Regions from separate parts of the Homo sapiens genome. Here region 1 is linked to region 2. The links come from fine-mapping of genetic effects on gene expression. A gene starts in region 2. The other region holds a variant in brackets. All regions are shown on one strand. Distances are between the middles of the regions.

The links. PIP is the estimated chance that this variant, and not a neighbour inherited with it, causes the effect.
Region 1: its variant is fine-mapped to the expression of CCDC86 in whole blood (TOPMed, PIP 0.96).

The regions. Positions count from the first base shown.
Region 1 is chr11:60,858,764-60,867,027 of GRCh38, forward strand. No RefSeq gene overlaps it. Among named protein-coding and RNA genes, the nearest start is that of ZP1, 4.6 kb to the right of the region's middle. RefSeq lists silencers at 5,373-5,667, 5,514-5,731. The variant C/T (reference allele first, on the strand shown) is at 4,160.
Region 2 is chr11:60,838,545-60,846,872 of GRCh38, forward strand. CCDC86 (coiled-coil domain containing 86) reads left to right here and starts at 3,569. Exons shown (of 4, transcript NM_024098.4): 1 at 3,569-4,338. The coding sequence starts at 3,581. It overlaps CCDC86-AS1 (CCDC86 antisense RNA 1), which reads right to left. Exons shown (of 2, transcript NR_182293.1): 2 at 3,262-3,436. RefSeq lists enhancers at 2,659-3,858, 3,765-3,994.

The DNA of each region.
Region 1 (8,264 bases), 20 kb after region 2:
TGGGTTTTTTATGTTCCTTTCTGGCCACTTTAAAGAAGTCAGTCAAACAGGAAGTGAGATGCAGGGCAGGAAGCAGGGTGAGGCCTGCCCTGGGATCCTCCAGCCCCTTGCTCGGAGGCCCTCGAGCTACCCACACCCAGTAGAGGAGCAGCATGGCAGGGCCCCAAATGATACCTTGGGGAGGCCCAGGTTGAGTTCCCTGGTGCCACCATCACCCACAGGACTCCTCGCATGGCCAACAAGCCCCTCGGTGATCCAGTCCCACCCAAGCCTCCCCTGGCATTGCTGCCACTCCCTAGTGGCATCCTGTCATCAGCCAGCACTCACCACTGTCCCCTCCTGTCCTGTGCACACCAGGCTTTTTCTGTACACACCAGGCTGTTTCTGTGCCCACCAGGCTGTTTCTGTGCCCTGGCTTATGCTGTTTGTGCTCTGCTCTGGAATGCCTTTTCTTCCCTTGGCCTCTCAGTGAACTCCTATTCATCCTTCAAAACCCTGGTTAGAGGTTGCCTCCTCTGGGAAGCCTTTGCTGATTCTCTCAGACCCACTTGCTGTCCCTCCTCTCCCACATCTCCACTTCACTTGACCTGCAGCCCCCCTGTCTTCCCTGGTAACTCTTGTTCACACAACTGTTCACCACCCTCATGAGCCACCTGAAGACAGAGACTTATTCCTGTTTTATCTTCTCACCTCCAAAGGCAAGCAGAGGGCCTGACACATGAGAGGGGTCCCAACATATATTTGCTGAACAGAATGAATCTCTAAAATTGGCTTCCCTGTGCAGACCTCAAAGGACCCCAGTCCCTTGTGGTGACCCATTCTGAGACCTTTACTTTTTTTTTTTTTTTTTTTTTTTTGAGACTGAGTCTCGCTCTGTTGCACAGGCTGGAGTGCAGTGGCCCTATCTTGGCTCACTGCAACCTCCGCCTCCCGGGTTGAAGCGACTCTCTTGCCTCAGCCTCCCAAGTAGCTGGGACTGCAGGCGTGCGCCACCGCACCCGGCTAATTTTTGTATTTTTAGTAGAGAAGGGGTTTCACCATGTTAGCCTGGCTGGTCTCAAACTCCTGACATCAGGTGATCTGCCTGCCTCAGCCTCCCAAAGTCCTGGGATTACAGGCCTGAGCCACTGTGTCCGGCCCCATTCTGGAACCTTTCTTACCCATGGTCTGGTGCAATTCTCCATGGCTCTGTCTTCACCTGCAGTGGGTACAACCTTGGGGACTGATCGCTTTATAGTAGGAAGGAAGACAAGAAGGCAGAGCAGGCAGAGGCAGCCCTGGCCTGGGCTCAGGCCCACACATGTGCCAGGCAATCGTCGCAGAAACAACAGTGGTGTATTTGTTTCCTCGGGCTGTCAGAACAAACTACCACAAACGTGGCAGCTTTAAACAACAGAGACTTATTCTCTTACAGTCTGGAAGCCAGAGTCTGTAATCAGATGCCAGCACTTCCTCCGAAAGCTCTAGAAAAGGAGACTTTTTGGCCCCTCCAGCTTCTGGTGGCTCCAGGCGTCCCTTGGCTTAGGGCTGCATCACTGCAATCTCTACCTCCTCTTTACCTGGCCTTCCCCCTCCCTCTTTTCATGTGTCTCTCACAGAGTACTGGTCACTGGACTTAGGGCTCATCTGGATCATCCAGGGTGCTCTCATCTTGAGATTCTTAAATTGATTACATCTGCAAAGTCCTCTTATCCAAATAAGGCCACATTCACAGGTTCCAGGGGTTAGGTTGTGGACATGTCTTTTGAGGGCCACCATTCAACACAGTGAAAGCAATAATAGCTTCTGGGTACGGTGGCTCATGCCTGCAATCCCAGCACTTCGGGAGGATGAGGCGGACAGATCACTTGAGGTCAGGAGTTCGAGACCAGCCTGGCCAACAGGCAAAACCCCATCTCTACTAAAAATACAAAAATTAGCCAGGTGTGATGGTGCACGCCTGTAATACCAGCTATTCAGGAGGCTGAGGCAGGAGAATCGCTTGAACCCAGGAGGCAGAGGTTATGGTGAGCCGAGATCCTGCCACTCCACTCCAGCCTGGGTGACAGAGCGAGACGCCATCTCAAAAAAAAAAAAAAAAAAAAAATGAAAACAGTAATAGCTAACACTTATGGGGCACTCACTATGTGCCAGCGTAAGGCTGAAACTTGCTCATGGATGAGCTCATCAAATATTCACGCACCCCTCTGAGTTAGGTACCACTATCATCGTCACTCACCAAGGGGAAAACTGAGGCTCAGAGAGCTTAAGCAACCCTACCAAGCCTGCTCAGCTGGGGAGCAGAGGAGCTGGAGTTCAGAGCCATGTGGTCCAGCAGCAGAGCCCAGCTCTTCGCAGCTGATGAGATTCTCTGAGGTTCTTTGTTCCCTCAGGGGAAGCAGGGCTGCCTGTCTTCAGTTAAATGCGCTCCCACTGGCCTTCTGGGAGCATCTCTGCGGTGAGCACGGTCCATACATACACACACAGCTGGCGCTGCTCTTGGGTTACTCTGCAGGCCCCGGAGTGAGGCAGCCTGCTTCCTGCTGGTTTCCTGGCATGCATGGATCCCCTGAAAGGGGATTTTGTCTTTCCAGCCTAGAGAGGCTCCATCCTCCTCCAGTGCCTTCCCTAGGCTCTATTCACAGAGGAGACAGGGCAAGCAACTGATACTTACACGGCGCCCCACTTAGGTGGACTGTATTCTTAGTTCCATTTTATAGATTAAGAAACTCAAGTTCCAACTGGGTGCGGTGGCTCACGCCTGTAATCCCAGCACTTTGGGAGGCTGAGGCGGGCGGATCGCAAGGTCAGGAGATCGAGACCATCCTGGCTAACACGGTGAAACCCCGTCTCTACTAAAAATATAAAAAATTAGCCGGGCATGGTGGCCAGCGCCTGCAGTCCCAGCTACTCGGGAGGCTAAGGCTGGAGAATGGTGTGAACCGGGAGGCGGAGCTTGCAGTGAGCCGAGATCGCGCCACTGCACTCCAGCCTGGGCGACAGAGTGAGACTCTGTCTCAAAACAAAACAAAAAAAAAAAAAGAAAGAAAAGAAACTGAAGTTCCATTAAAAAAAAATTCATAGGTTAAAAACAGAAAGAAAGAAATGAACAAACAGGTTTACAAACAGGCCAAGTGGCCAGGTGTGGAGGCTCATGCCTGTAATCCCAGCACTTTGGGAGACAGAGGCGGGCAGATTGCTTGAGCCCAGGAGTTTGAGACCAGCCTGGGCAATATAGCAAGACCCCATCTCTAAAAAAAAACCCAAAAACCAGAAGCCAAGTGGATAAAGCCAAGATTCCAAGTCAAGTCACCTCCATCTGACCCTCTCTCTTTATCAATAAAAATAATCGTGGTTGTAATGGCTATCGTGTTCAAATGATGACCATGTGCAGACCCTGTTCTGCCTGCTTCACATGGATTATCTCATTTAATCCTCAGAGCAACCCTACAATTTAGGTGCTATTATAACCCCATTTTATAGATGAGGAAAGCAAGTCACAGAGCAGGGAAGGGACTTTTCCAAGGTCTCCAGTGGGTGAGCAGAGGAGCTGGGATCCTCCCAGGCTGATAATTCTTGGTGTCCATGAGTCTTTGCAAGAACGTAGAGTCGTAACCGAGGGCTCAGGGCGCTCGTGCGCGCTCTCTCTCTCTCTTGGATACTCTGGTACCCTTTTCCCAAAGGTGTTCTGCCCTTGGCCCTGAGGAAGCCCCCCTTCTCTTTCCCTGCCCATTTCCAGCACCTTGGGAGACGTACTTTCCCCATGGGTCCATGACCAGTGGGGAAACACCTCTCCGTGTCTTATGTAATTGCATCCCCACCATAATCATTCTCATCCTTACTCTCCAGATAGAGGAAAAAAGCCGGTAAGTGACTTCCCAGGGCCCTTGTGCTCATAAACAGTGAGCACCAGGCAAAATCCAGGCCTCTCAAAGACTCCAGCTGATTCTCTCTCTGGCCCCTAAAAGCCCCCGTTAGGAAAAGTTCTCTCTTATGATAGCAAATAAATGCAGAAGGAAGGGTAGAGTTAGAGAACCACCACCCACTTGGCAACCACACTAGCCAGTGAACATTTGAAGAGGAGCAGGATTGATTACATAGTCTCAAAGTATCTCCCTGTAAGATACTCATGAATTACAAAGAGAAACATCATTACTTTATGGTGGAGAAACCTGGCAGA[C/T]ACCACCTTATCCAAGTGATCAAAGTCACATCAGCAATAACAGGACAAGCCAGCGGGGTGTGCCTCGAGATACTGAGAAGGACACAACATCACTTCTGTACAAGCTGAATTGTATCCCCCCAAAATTCATATGCGAAATCCCTAACCCTCCACCCCCATCCCTCAGAATGTGACTGTATTTGGAGATAGAGCTTTTAAAGATGTGATTTAAGATTGAGCCCCTTAAGGTGGCCCTAATCCAATCTGACTGGTGTCCTTAGAAGAAGAGGAAATTTGTTTTTGTTTTTTGGGATGGAGTTTCACTCTGTCTTCCAGACTGGAGTGCAGTGGTGCCGTCTTGGCTCCCTGCAACCTCCACCTCCCAGGTTCAAGTGATTCTCCCACCTCAGCCTCCTGAGGAGCTGGGATTGCAGGTGTGCACCACCACACCCAACTAATTAGTTTGTATTTTTAGTAGAGATGGGGTTTCACCATGTTGGCCAGGCTGGTCTCAAACTCCTGACCTCAAGTGATCTGCCCACCTCGGCCTCCCAAAGTGCTAGGATTACAGGCGTGAGCCACCGTGCCAGCCAGAAGAAGAGGGAATTTGACCATTCAAAGAGACACCAAGGACGCACCAGCACAGGGGAAAGACCACGTGAGGACTCAGTGAGAAGACGGTTGTCTGCAGGCCAAAGAGAGAGGCCTCAGGAGCAACCAGACCTGCCACCACTTTGACCTAGCACATCCAGGCTCCAGAGCTGTGAGAAAAAGACTTATTTAAGCCACTCAGTCTGTATTTTGTTACAGCAGCCAAACGGACTAATACAAGGCCAAGATGCATCAACTAAATCTAATGTAACCAGGAGAAAACACCAGACAAACCCAAACTGAGGGCCATTCTGCAAAATCATCCGGCTGTACTAAAAAATGTCAAGGGTATGAAAGACAAAAGAAGATAGAAGGGCGGTCCCAGATCAGAGGAGGCCAAGAGGCACGCCAGCGAGACTCTGAGCCTGGATTGGATCCTGCAGACTCCCAAAACCACTGTACTCCTTTGCCATGAAAGTCACAGTTAGGACAGTCGGCAGATGTTGAGTAATTGTCAGAGCAGGAGCACCGTCATCTCGGACAAATACTGCCACTTTAAGCTCCAGCTCCCTTTCTAGCCTCATGCATTTCAAGGAAATCACTTCTCTTCTAACTACAACAGCCAGAAAGAGCAGACAGTAAAATACAGATAAGACAGCTCCGGCACAGAGCGGGGTGGAGGGAAGGTCTCTTTGGTAACTGCCAAACTTCACCCTCACACAATGAGCCCCAGTAAAACAGTGGGCCTTAATAAGCACATTCCTTTTCCTTCAGGGGCACTAAGATAGGGAAGCTAAAAGCAGACTCTGGGGATATGCCTGTAGCTGCAGAAAGATATATGGGAACAGACACACAACTCTCCCTCCCAGATACGCACAGCAAAGAGACACAGGAGCAGTCCAAGCCTCTGATAAACTCCCCCGCCCTGAATCCTTAACTCTTAATCTGTAAGAGAGTGGGGCTCTGACCTAACTCGGCCAGCCGCCCCTCTCAGGTTTACTCAACATAAACCTGTCCCTGTTGCCTGTTGAACCGCCCTTTCATGTTGCTTTCCTCTTTATTTCTTACAATAATGTCTGCAGATTAGATCGTTGTGTTTATACCATTGTTGGTTTCCTGATTTTGATCATTTGACTGTAGGGGTGATTTGTTTTTTTAGGAAATGTATACTGAAGCAATTAGAGGTAAAGGGGAATCTGTCATTTCTGCAACTGACTCTTGAATGATATGGAAGAATGTGTGCGTGTGTGCGTGTGCGTGCGTGTATGTCTGCACACATGCAGAGAGAGAAAGCGGGAGCTACAGCAAATGTAAAAAGTGAACAGTGAACATCTGAGGAATCTGGAGGAGGCTATATGGAAATTCTGCAAATCTGAAATAATTTCAAAATTAAAAGTTTAAAACTTCCACATCGTCCCTCAGGGAAAATCCACCCCACTCCCCGCTCCTGCCTGGCTCCTCTCCTTCCCCTCCTAGTCCTTCCCTCGCCAGCACCCTCAGCCTGCCTGGAGTCCTTGTCCTGGACCTTTGTGTGACCTGCTTCCTCCCTCCTCCTCCAGCTCTGCTCTCCCCAGATCCCCATTGCACCATCCCTGTCCTCCCCGCCTCCTCCCACCTCTGCTCAGGACCCCTTTCCTCCAAAAACACTTCCATGTCGCCCATCCTCGATGCTGTGTTGGGTGCCTCTTCCCACTGTGCCCCCAGAGGGACTCCCACCCCGCCCCACCAAGCTTTCCCAGCTGAGCTTTAATCACAGTAGAAGTGAATTATTGCCAAGCATTAAATCATTACTGCACCTGGTACCCATGACTTGTCTCTTTGTGTCTTCCTATCCACCATGTGGGCAAGGAAAGCATTATCACCCCCAGTTTACAAACAGGAAACCTGAGGCTCAGAATAGATAATGCATCTGAGTCACAGCTAAGAAAGTGGTTGGGGCACCATTAGAACCAACTTTTTTTGTTTAAACTTTTATTTTAGGTTCAGGGTTACTTATGCAGGTTTGTTATATAGGTAAATGCATGTCCAGAGGGATTGTTGTACAGATTATTTCATCACCCAGATACTAAGCCTAGCACCCAATAGTTATTATTTCCACCCTTCTCCTTCCTCTTACCCTCTACCCTTCAATAGGCCCCAGTGTGTGCCATTCCCCTCTATGTGTCCATATGTTGTCATCATTTAGCCTTCAGTTATAAGTGAGAACATGTGGTATTGGTTTCTGTTCCTGCATTTGTTTGCTAAGGATAATATCCTCCAGCTCCATCCATGTTCTTGCAAGAGATGTGATCTCATTCTTTTTTATGGCTGCATAGTATTCCATGGTGTATGTGTACCACATTTTCCTTTTTTTTTTTTCTTTTTCTTTTTTTTTTTTTTTTTTTGAGACAGAGTCTCACTCTGTCGGCCAGGCTGGAGTGCAACAGCACAATCTCGGCTCACTGCAACCTCCGTCTCCTGGGTTCAAGCGATTCTCCTGCCTCAGCCTCCTGAGTAGCTGGGACTACAGGTGCGTGCCACCACACCCAGCTAATTTTTGTATTTTTAGTAGAGACAGGGTTTCACCATGTTAGCCAGGATGGTCTCGATCTCCTGACCTCGTGATCCGCCCGCCTCGGCCTCCCAAAGTGCTGGGATTACAGGCGTGAGCCACCGTGCTCAGCATGTACCAGATTTTCTTTATTGAGTCTACCATTGATGGGCATTTGATTCCATGTCTTGGCTATTGTGAATCATGCTGCACTGAACATATGCACGCAGGTTCAGTGTCTTTATGATAGAACAATTTATATTCCTTTGGATATATACCCAGTAATGCGATTTCTGCATCAAATGATAGTTCTGTTTTCAGCTCTTTGAGGAATCACCACACTCCCACAGTGGTCAAACCAATTTACACCCCCACCAAGAGCGTATAAGCATTCCTTTTTCTCTGCAACCTCACCAGAACCGGGCTCTTAGCTATCAAGCCTCTTGCTCTCCCCTTCCAGCAGCTGCTAATTATAATAGCTGCATTTTCTAATGTTTGCTGAGCTCAAACGCTGCTGGGCCCTAGGCTAATCACTTGCAGGAATTAGTGCCAGGACGTGGGGCTGGTGACAGTCCCTTCCTCAGAGGATGGTCAGGCGGTATAAGGATCTAACACAAGCAAGACCTGGCACTGTAATCATGGCAGACCACAGGCCATTCTTGTTGTTTCCAGCCACTTTTATGTCTTAGAACTGTTCTAGATTTACAGAACTGAGAAGATAGTACAGACAGTTCCCATACACCGCAGGCCCAGTTTACCCCATAACTGATCTTACTTGAGTATGATACATTTATTACAATTAATGAACAAACAAATGTGGACACATTATTATTAACTAAAATCCACTTTCTTCACTTTTACTGCCTTTTTCTGTTCCACGATCCCATCCAGATGCCACATTACATTTAGTTGTCCTTGTTATTTTTTATTAGTCATAGTCATCATCATACTGACCGGCTGAATCCTCAGGAGAGCCCTTGGAGGTGCTACTGGTCTGTTTACTCA
Region 2 (8,328 bases):
GGCCAGAGCCCACCTGATGCTGAGGTTGACAAAGTGTCTCCAAGTGTCTGGGGGCCACCCAAAGGCCTCCTCTAAAACACATCTCCCTCTCTCTGGTGAAAACCTGAGATCACCCTCTGAAGTATTTCAGGCAAGGCTAGGTGTTGAACAGAAAGCCATGGGGACCCAGGTCTCTGACATCTGGGGACTGTCAGACCCTCTCAACTGTAGCACCCCTTAGCTGGGGGGAGGTCAATGACTCAGAGGAGAACACCTGATCCTATCTTCCATCCATCTGCCAGCGCTTGGTTTCCATCAGTCAGCAGATCTCAGGTTACATAAATAAACTGGTATTGCTGATTCGGCACATTCTGCACGATGGTGTGTGCCAGGTGGTACCCACCTCCTCCCAGCACACAGACCAGAATCAGTGTGACGAATAGGTGAGCAAGGCCCATGTGGGGGCAGCTGCAAGGCAGCTAAGCATGCCACCTCTGGAACCACAATCCTGGCTCCTGAATGTGCCGCTGTCTGATTTTGGGCAAGCACCTTAGCCTTCCCATGCCTGATTCCTTGCCTGGATAACAGGCAGATTTACTGTTAAGAGTTGTGGCTCTGGAATCAGACAGTCTAGGTGTGGATCTTGCCTCTACCACTTATTTGCTGTGTGACCTTTACAAGTGTCTCAGCCTCTCTGTGCCTCAGTCTTTTTTTTTTTTTTTTTTTGAGACAGAGTCTTGCTCTGCCACCCAGGTTGCTGTGCAGTGGCACGATCTTGGTTCACTGCAACCTCTACCTCCCAGGTTCAAGCAATTCCCCTGCCTCAGCCTCCTGAGTAGCTGGGACTCGAGGCGCCTGCCACCACACCCAGCTAATTTTTGTACTTTTAGTAGAGATGGGGTTTCATCATGTTGGCCAGGCTGGTCTTGAACTCCTGGCCTCCAGTGATCCGCCCACCTTGGCCTCCCAAAGTACTGGGATTACTACAGGTGTGAGCCAGCGCACCCAGCCTCTCAGTTTCTTTATCTGTAAACTGGGAGTAATAACAACTGCACCTGCCTCACAGGATTGTTGGGAGAAGCATTAAGAAATGGATTTGTACTTGGAGAGTACTTGAAACAATGCCTGGACCAATCATTGCTGGCACCAATGTTTCAGGCTAGGTTTCTGCAGAAGCCAACTCTGAGAAGAGGATTAAGTACAATATTTGTCTGCTCTGAGAATGACCTCAGCAAGCATCTATAAGAAAGTGGGGAAGTGAGACAGGGATGAAGCCAAAAGAGGGTCCATGAGCAGATTACCTTTGTGGGCAATGCAAGTTCAATCCTGTTGGTGGCCTCTGGGGGCTACAGAGAAGCCCCTCAGTATCCTACCACCTAAAGGCAAGAAAGCTGTGATGTAGAAAGCTGCAATAAAAGCAAAGGAGTGGCCAGGCACAGTGGCTCACGCCTGTAATCCCAACACTTCAGGAGGCCGAGGCAGGAGGATCACTTGAGCCCAGGAGTTCAAGACCAGCCTGAGCAACACAGGGAGACCCCGTTTCTACAAAAAAAAAAAAATAGCCAGGCATGGTGGCATGAGCCTGTGGTGCCAGCTACTCAGGTGGGAGGATCCCTGGGGCCTGGGAGGTCAAGGCTGCAGTGAGCTGTGATTGTGCCACTGCACTCCAGCCTGGACAACAGAGCAAGACCCTGTCTCAAAAATAATAATAATTTTTAAAAGAAAGCAAAGGAGTGTAAGGAGACAGGGTCCCAACAGCGATCGCCACACCAGGCGCTTCTGAAAATTTCAGGAGTCTCCTCTGGGCCTCTGCACACCATGTATAATGACAATGACAAACTGAGCTCATGTGGGAGTAGGGGGTTCTGGGCCAGAGCCCATCTGATGCTGAGGTTGACAAAGTGCCTCCAAATGTCTGGGGGCCACCCAAAGGCCTCCTCTAAAACACATCTCCCTCTCTCTGGTGAAAACCTGAGATCACCCTCTGAAGTATTTCAGGCTAGACTAGGATATGATCCAATCGGCACTGGAGAGTGATCCCTCCAGCTGGGGACAAGAGCTTAGGAGGCAGGGCAAGCCAAGGGGGACTGGAGCAGGGCAGAGGGGCATACAGTCTCCTCCAGCACTCTGGCAACACCTGCCGGGCTTGGTTCTGAGTGTCAGATCATTGGGGTCTCCAGGCAGGGGCAGGGCATTTAAGGAACTGAATGGAACTCACTCCTCTGACAGTTGGGGGGTGGAAGAGCTGGGCAAGGAGGTGTCCCGGCTGCTTCTGCTGTGGACAGCTGCATGGCCGGAGAGGAGCAGTGAGGCAGGCAAAGCCCCCCTGCAGGGGTCTCCTTGACTCAGGAACATGAGGAAGATGAGGACACTCTGATCCCTGATATTCTTGGACAATTTCCCAGGCCCTCTCACAAGCCCGCAGCTGGAGAAACAATGGTTTCTAAAAGAAACCACTGGAATGTCAGACGGGGCCCTGGGACCTTTAATGGCCAACCCCAGGCAGTTCCAAGAATTACACAACTGGGCCACTTCCAAGATGTTCTTCCTAAGAAGCATGCTGTAAGTAAATCAAAGCCCCACTCCTAGGTCTCACACGAAAGTCTCCACAGCCCCACATTCCCCAACCCCACATCCCGAGAGTCTTCTCTAGGCCTTGGGAGGTCCAGAAGTCAACACCTGCTCACTGGTGAGGTCCCAAAGTGCTTAGTAAGCAAAGTACATTTACAGGTGAATAGCAAGGGAAGGGAGGGGAGGCGAAGCAGGTTCACACACGAGCAAAAACCACTGTCTGGGCTGAAAGGAAGATCGGAGATGATCCAACCCGTTTCTAGAACTGGGGTAGAAGAAGAGGGACGTGGGAGGATATGCAGCTGGTCGAGGGCCCAGGTGAGCCACAGGACAAAGGTGGTGCATCTTATTGGTACCTCAACTTCCCTCACAAACGTTGAAAACGCTGAAAAGGGAGGGAGAGCTATGGATTATATACGGAAGCACAGGACGGAAGAATCAAGAGTGTGAACAATTAACACAGAAAAGACCGATCTTCCACCTCCAGGACCCCCAGGTAGCAGTCCCTCAGGTAGGTGGGAGGAGGACTCTGACAGGATCATTTGGGATGCACGAAGCTAGTGCAAAATGACCCCTATTACAAATGAGAAAACAGGCCCAAGGAGGGCAGGACTCTGCCCAACTGCACCGGAGTTGGCTGCAAAACATCCACTGGGCCTTGCCTATGGGCTCCTCGGACCTTTTTTCGACTCTGTTCTCTCCCTGAAATGGGTCCTCCCACTTTCCCTTTTCTACTTGCTCGCTCTTCTTTCCCCAGGAAACTTTGCAAGAAAGGCAAAAGCGAATCCCAGGAAAAAGACTGGCTCATCAATCACATGTTGACTGCGCTCGCGCGAATTGCGCATGCGCATGCTGAGCCCCACTCTCCCCAACCCCGGTCCCGCCTCTCCACCCCTCACCAACATGGCCGCCTCAGCAACAGCCCCCCTCCTGTGCGTCACGGACGCGGCGACTCCTGACGTCATAGGAAGGCGCCGGTTTCGGCGGGGGCTGCACGTGCGCAGGGGTGTGGAAACTTACCGGCTGAGCCATGGATACACCGTTAAGGCGCAGCCGACGGCTGGGAGGCCTAAGGCCCGAATCCCCCGAGAGCCTCACCTCAGTTTCGCGGACGAGACGGGCCCTTGTGGAGTTCGAGTCGAACCCAGAAGAAACGAGGGAGCCCGGGTCTCCTCCGAGTGTGCAGCGGGCTGGCCTGGGGTCCCCCGAAAGGCCGCCGAAGACAAGCCCAGGATCACCCCGTCTGCAGCAGGGTGCAGGCTTGGAGTCACCCCAAGGGCAGCCAGAGCCAGGCGCAGCGTCCCCCCAGCGTCAGCAAGACCTACACCTGGAGTCGCCTCAAAGACAGCCAGAGTACAGTCCTGAATCCCCACGATGTCAGCCGAAGCCAAGTGAGGAGGCACCAAAGTGTTCTCAGGACCAGGGAGTACTGGCCTCGGAGTTGGCCCAGAATAAGGAGGAGCTGACCCCGGGGGCCCCCCAGCATCAGCTACCGCCGGTCCCAGGATCACCAGAGCCTTACCCCGGTCAGCAAGCTCCCGGTCCGGAGCCCTCTCAGCCACTACTGGAGCTGACACCCAGGGCACCTGGCTCCCCCCGGGGTCAGCATGAGCCGAGCAAGCCACCTCCAGCTGGGGAGACGGTGACAGGCGGCTTCGGGGCAAAGAAGCGAAAAGGTTCTTCATCCCAGGCCCCAGCGTCCAAGAAGTTGAATAAAGAGGAGCTTCCTGTAATCCCGAAGGGGAAGCCCAAATCGGGGCGAGTGTGGAAGGACCGCTCCAAGAAAAGGTGAAGTGGGGGACAGCATGGACAGGGGTGGCGTTCTCTATGGTGTTGGGACCCCGCCTTTGCCCTGCTGCAGCCTGGAGAATAGCCCCAGGGTTAGAGAGAGCTCACGTTAGTGGGGATGTTAGCAAACAGGTAATTACAATCAGAATGTGGTAAAATGCCCTGGGATCCCGGAGAGGGTGGGGCCAGGCCCTCAAAGATCAATTTCTCTGATGCCTTTCCTCCTCAGGGTCCCTATGGGCCTCTCCTGTAGCACCTCAGGTCTGTATTCGTTCAACAGACATTTACCGTTGTCTGCCCTCTCTAGTGAGAGAAGCAGAAGCAAGTAAACCAGCCATTACTTGATCAAAGCAGTGAGGTCTTCATCCAATATAGTCTATTACAGTTATTTGCCTTTAAGATAAAAAGTATTACTGAGCACTGATTATATAAGGATTTACCAGTCAACAGCCTTAATAAGGATTTACCAGTCAACAGCCTTTCAAACATGGAACAGCATGTGTCATCACGCTTAATCTGCACGTCAGCCCTGTGAAGCAGGCGGTGTTATTATTCCTGTTTTTTGTGTGAGGAAACCAAGGCTAAATGAGTGGTAGGCACAGGACCTGAGCACAGATCTGATTCCGAAGCCTGTGTGCAAAAAACCCCTTTACCCAATCCCTGTAGATCCACCTTGAATTGGATTGCGACCTTCTTAAGGGGCAGGCACGAGATCTTTCTTGTCTTTCTGTGCCAAGGGCATAGTAAATGCCCAATGAATGCTTATTTAATGAAGGAACGAAGTAGCTCATCTGAAGAAGGAAGAGTGTAGGCTGCCATGAAGGAGAGGTGTGGGATTCAGTTCCAATTCGAGCTAATGGGAACCACAGGGGAGAGTCAGGGATGTATGCCTGTGAGGGACCATGAGGAAGGAGGGTGTTTTTAAGGAAGAAGCTGACTCTGTGCCAGGCTTCGTGCTAGGCCCTTTTCTTGTATCCTTAAAACCCTAGGCTGTGGATATTATCCCCCCACCCCTGATGAAACAGAAGAAACTGAGGCTTACAGAGTAATTTACTGCAAGTCTCCCATGGGAGAGACTTTGAGGCTAGAGTGACTGTAACTGTTGGAGAAGTGGATGATGGCACTACCCCTCTGCCCTGTCCCAGGGGGTCACAGGAGAATGGCAGGGCCGTTGATGGCCATGTGGAACTGGAGGAGGCTGGTTCAGGTGGGAAGAGGGTGATGAGCAAGTTGAGCGGGTGAAGCTTGGGGTCCTGGTACTCACGCTGCAGGTGGGGAGATGGGCTTGCTGAGCTAGAGGGGGCTGGGCCCATGCAGAGGTGGGGAGAAGGGAGGGGCCCACACAAGACACAGGATCAGCAGCTGGAGCAGAGTAGGAGGCCACAGATCACTTGACCAAGAAGTCTGGAGAGAGGGTGTGTGGTTCCAGCTCCCTGCCCAACTGCAGACCCGTCCTGACTCACTGTTGCTCACTCAGAGCATGCACTCCAGACTCCTTAATGAGGCCGGCAGGCCCACCCTCCTCTCCCCTCCATCACTAGAGCTTCCACACTGTTGTCCCCTCCATGTTCCTCCCATGTGTGACGCTCCCTCCTTCCTCAGCGCCTTCACACGTGCTGTTCCCACTGTTTGAAAGGCTCTTTCCCTGGCCAGTCCCCCACTCATGTTTCAGGGCTCAGTTCAAATGTCACCTCCTCTGAAAAGCCTCTCTGGCTTATCCAACTAGGGTTAAGTCCCCATGCTTTATGTTATCATTGTGTGCTGTACTTCTCTTTTGTAACACCTCCATTTGCACAAATGCTTATTTATTTGTGATTCTTATTGACTGCCTGTTTTCCTTTAAACCGGAGGCTCCGTGAGAGTGTAAGAGTGGGGACTTACCTATCATGACTAGATGCCCCAGAGCCCAGTGCAGGGTAGGGCACTAAGCTGAACAAGTGGATGAATTGAGGACAGAAGGTAGTTCATTCATTCATCAACCAGTTGCTCAGATCTTGGGTAAACATGTCTGTGAACAAAAAGTCTCTGCTCTCCTGAAGCAAACATTCTAAATGTGGGAAACAGATAAAGAACAAGTACACACATGATATGTCAGTAATAAAGACTTCAAAGAAAAATAAACCAGGATGGGGACCAGAGAATAACAGGGAGGGCAGGGTATTGCCACAGTGCTCAGAGATGGCCTTGCAGATAAACAGGTCTGAGCAGAGGGAGCCGGGCAGAGATCTGGGGAAACAGTATCCAGGCAACAGGAAAGGGATGTTCAGAGGTATTGAGGCGGGAGCAAGCTCCCGTTTGAGAGGCTTTCCAGAGGTCTCGCTGCTGGAATGAGGGGGAGAAGGGGAACAGTAGGAGATGAGGTCAGAGAGACAGCAGGACCTGGTGACCCTTACAGGGACTCCCGGCTTTCCTGAGTGAGCTTGGGAGCCATGGAAGGGTGTCAAGCAAAGGAATGAAATGACCTGACTTGTGAGATCAGCCTGGCTACTGAACACAGACATAGGCGGGCAGGGGTGAAGGCAGGAAAACCCACAAGGAGGCTGTCTCAAGAGAACTAAAACAGCTTCCGAAGCTGCAGGCAAGTCTGTGGCGAGGGGCCCAGCAGGGCCACTGAATGGATGTTTGGGATCTTTGAGGGAGCAGCTTCGGTGGGTAGTAAGTGAGCCTGGAGATGGGTGGGAAGCAGCTCCTGCTGCAGGGAGGAAGACAGCCGCAGCTGGGAAAGTGTATGTGGTGAGGGAGACCTGGCTGCAGCCCTGTCTTCGTGCTCATGCCAAACGCCACTTTCTCCATAGTGCCCTTGGGCATGCTGTCTGCCTTCTCTGAGGAGTAGCATTTATGGAGCACCTATTACGTGTGTGTGTCGATTAAATCTCCCACCACCCTTTGGGTTAGGAATGATTCTCATCTCCACTGGACAGGATGCTGAGACTTAGAGAGGCTACCTTGCTCCAGGTCACCCAGGTTGGACTTGGAACCCAGGCCTGAGTTTCCTCAATACCCAGGTAGAACCAATGGTCTGGAACTGCCCTGCCTCAGTACCTTAGCCGCCAGCCACATGTGGCTATGTACATTTAAATTAATTAAAATTAAATAAAATTTAAGATTCAGTTTCTCTATCAACACCAACCACATTTCTAGCGCTCAGCAGCCACCCATGACTAGTGGCTACCTTATTGGACAGTGTCAATGTGGAATGTTTCCACCATCACAGAACGTTCTGTTTGACAGCCCTGCTCTACACAGATGCAGCACTGTGTCTTGTGGTTCTGTGTGTCTCTAGGCTCCCAACACCTTGTCCCTTCAGGGTTCTCGTACCCCAGCTTGGGAAGCCCAGCTTTACAGTTATGGGGGAAGTCCATGTGGCACCCCATTCTTAGTGCTTAGGAGGCCAGGCCTTCAGTGGCAAGGCCTTGGGAAGGGGAGAAGGAAATCAGGGAGCTGGGGCCAGAAGTCGGCAGGGCCAAGGGACACCAAAATGGGCCTTGAATCTTTAAAAGAGAAAGACCTAATTTCAGCATGTGGAGGCCACCGAGAGACTTCTTTGCATTTTGTTTTTACTTTTTTTGAATGGAAATTTTCAAGCATACAAAGAAAGAGCAAAGCTCTCAAGTCCCCATTATCAGCATCAACACAGCTCAGCATTTTACTAGTGTAGCTTCATCTTTGATACTTGGCTTTTTTTTCTTTTTTTCTTTTTTTTTGTTTTGAGACGGAGTTTCATTCTTGTTGCCCAGGCCAGAGTGCAATGGAGCAATCTCGGCTCACCGCAACCTCCGCCTCCTGGGTTCAAGCGATTCTCCTGCCTCAGCCTCCCAAGTAGCTGGGATTACAGGTGTGTGCCACCACACCCAGCTAATTTTGTATTTTTAGTAGAGACAGGGTTTCTCCATGTTGGTCAAGCTGGTCTCGAACTCCCGACCTTAGGTGATCGGCCCACCTCAGCCTCCCAAAGTGCTGGGATTACAGGCGTGAGCCACTGCGCCCGGC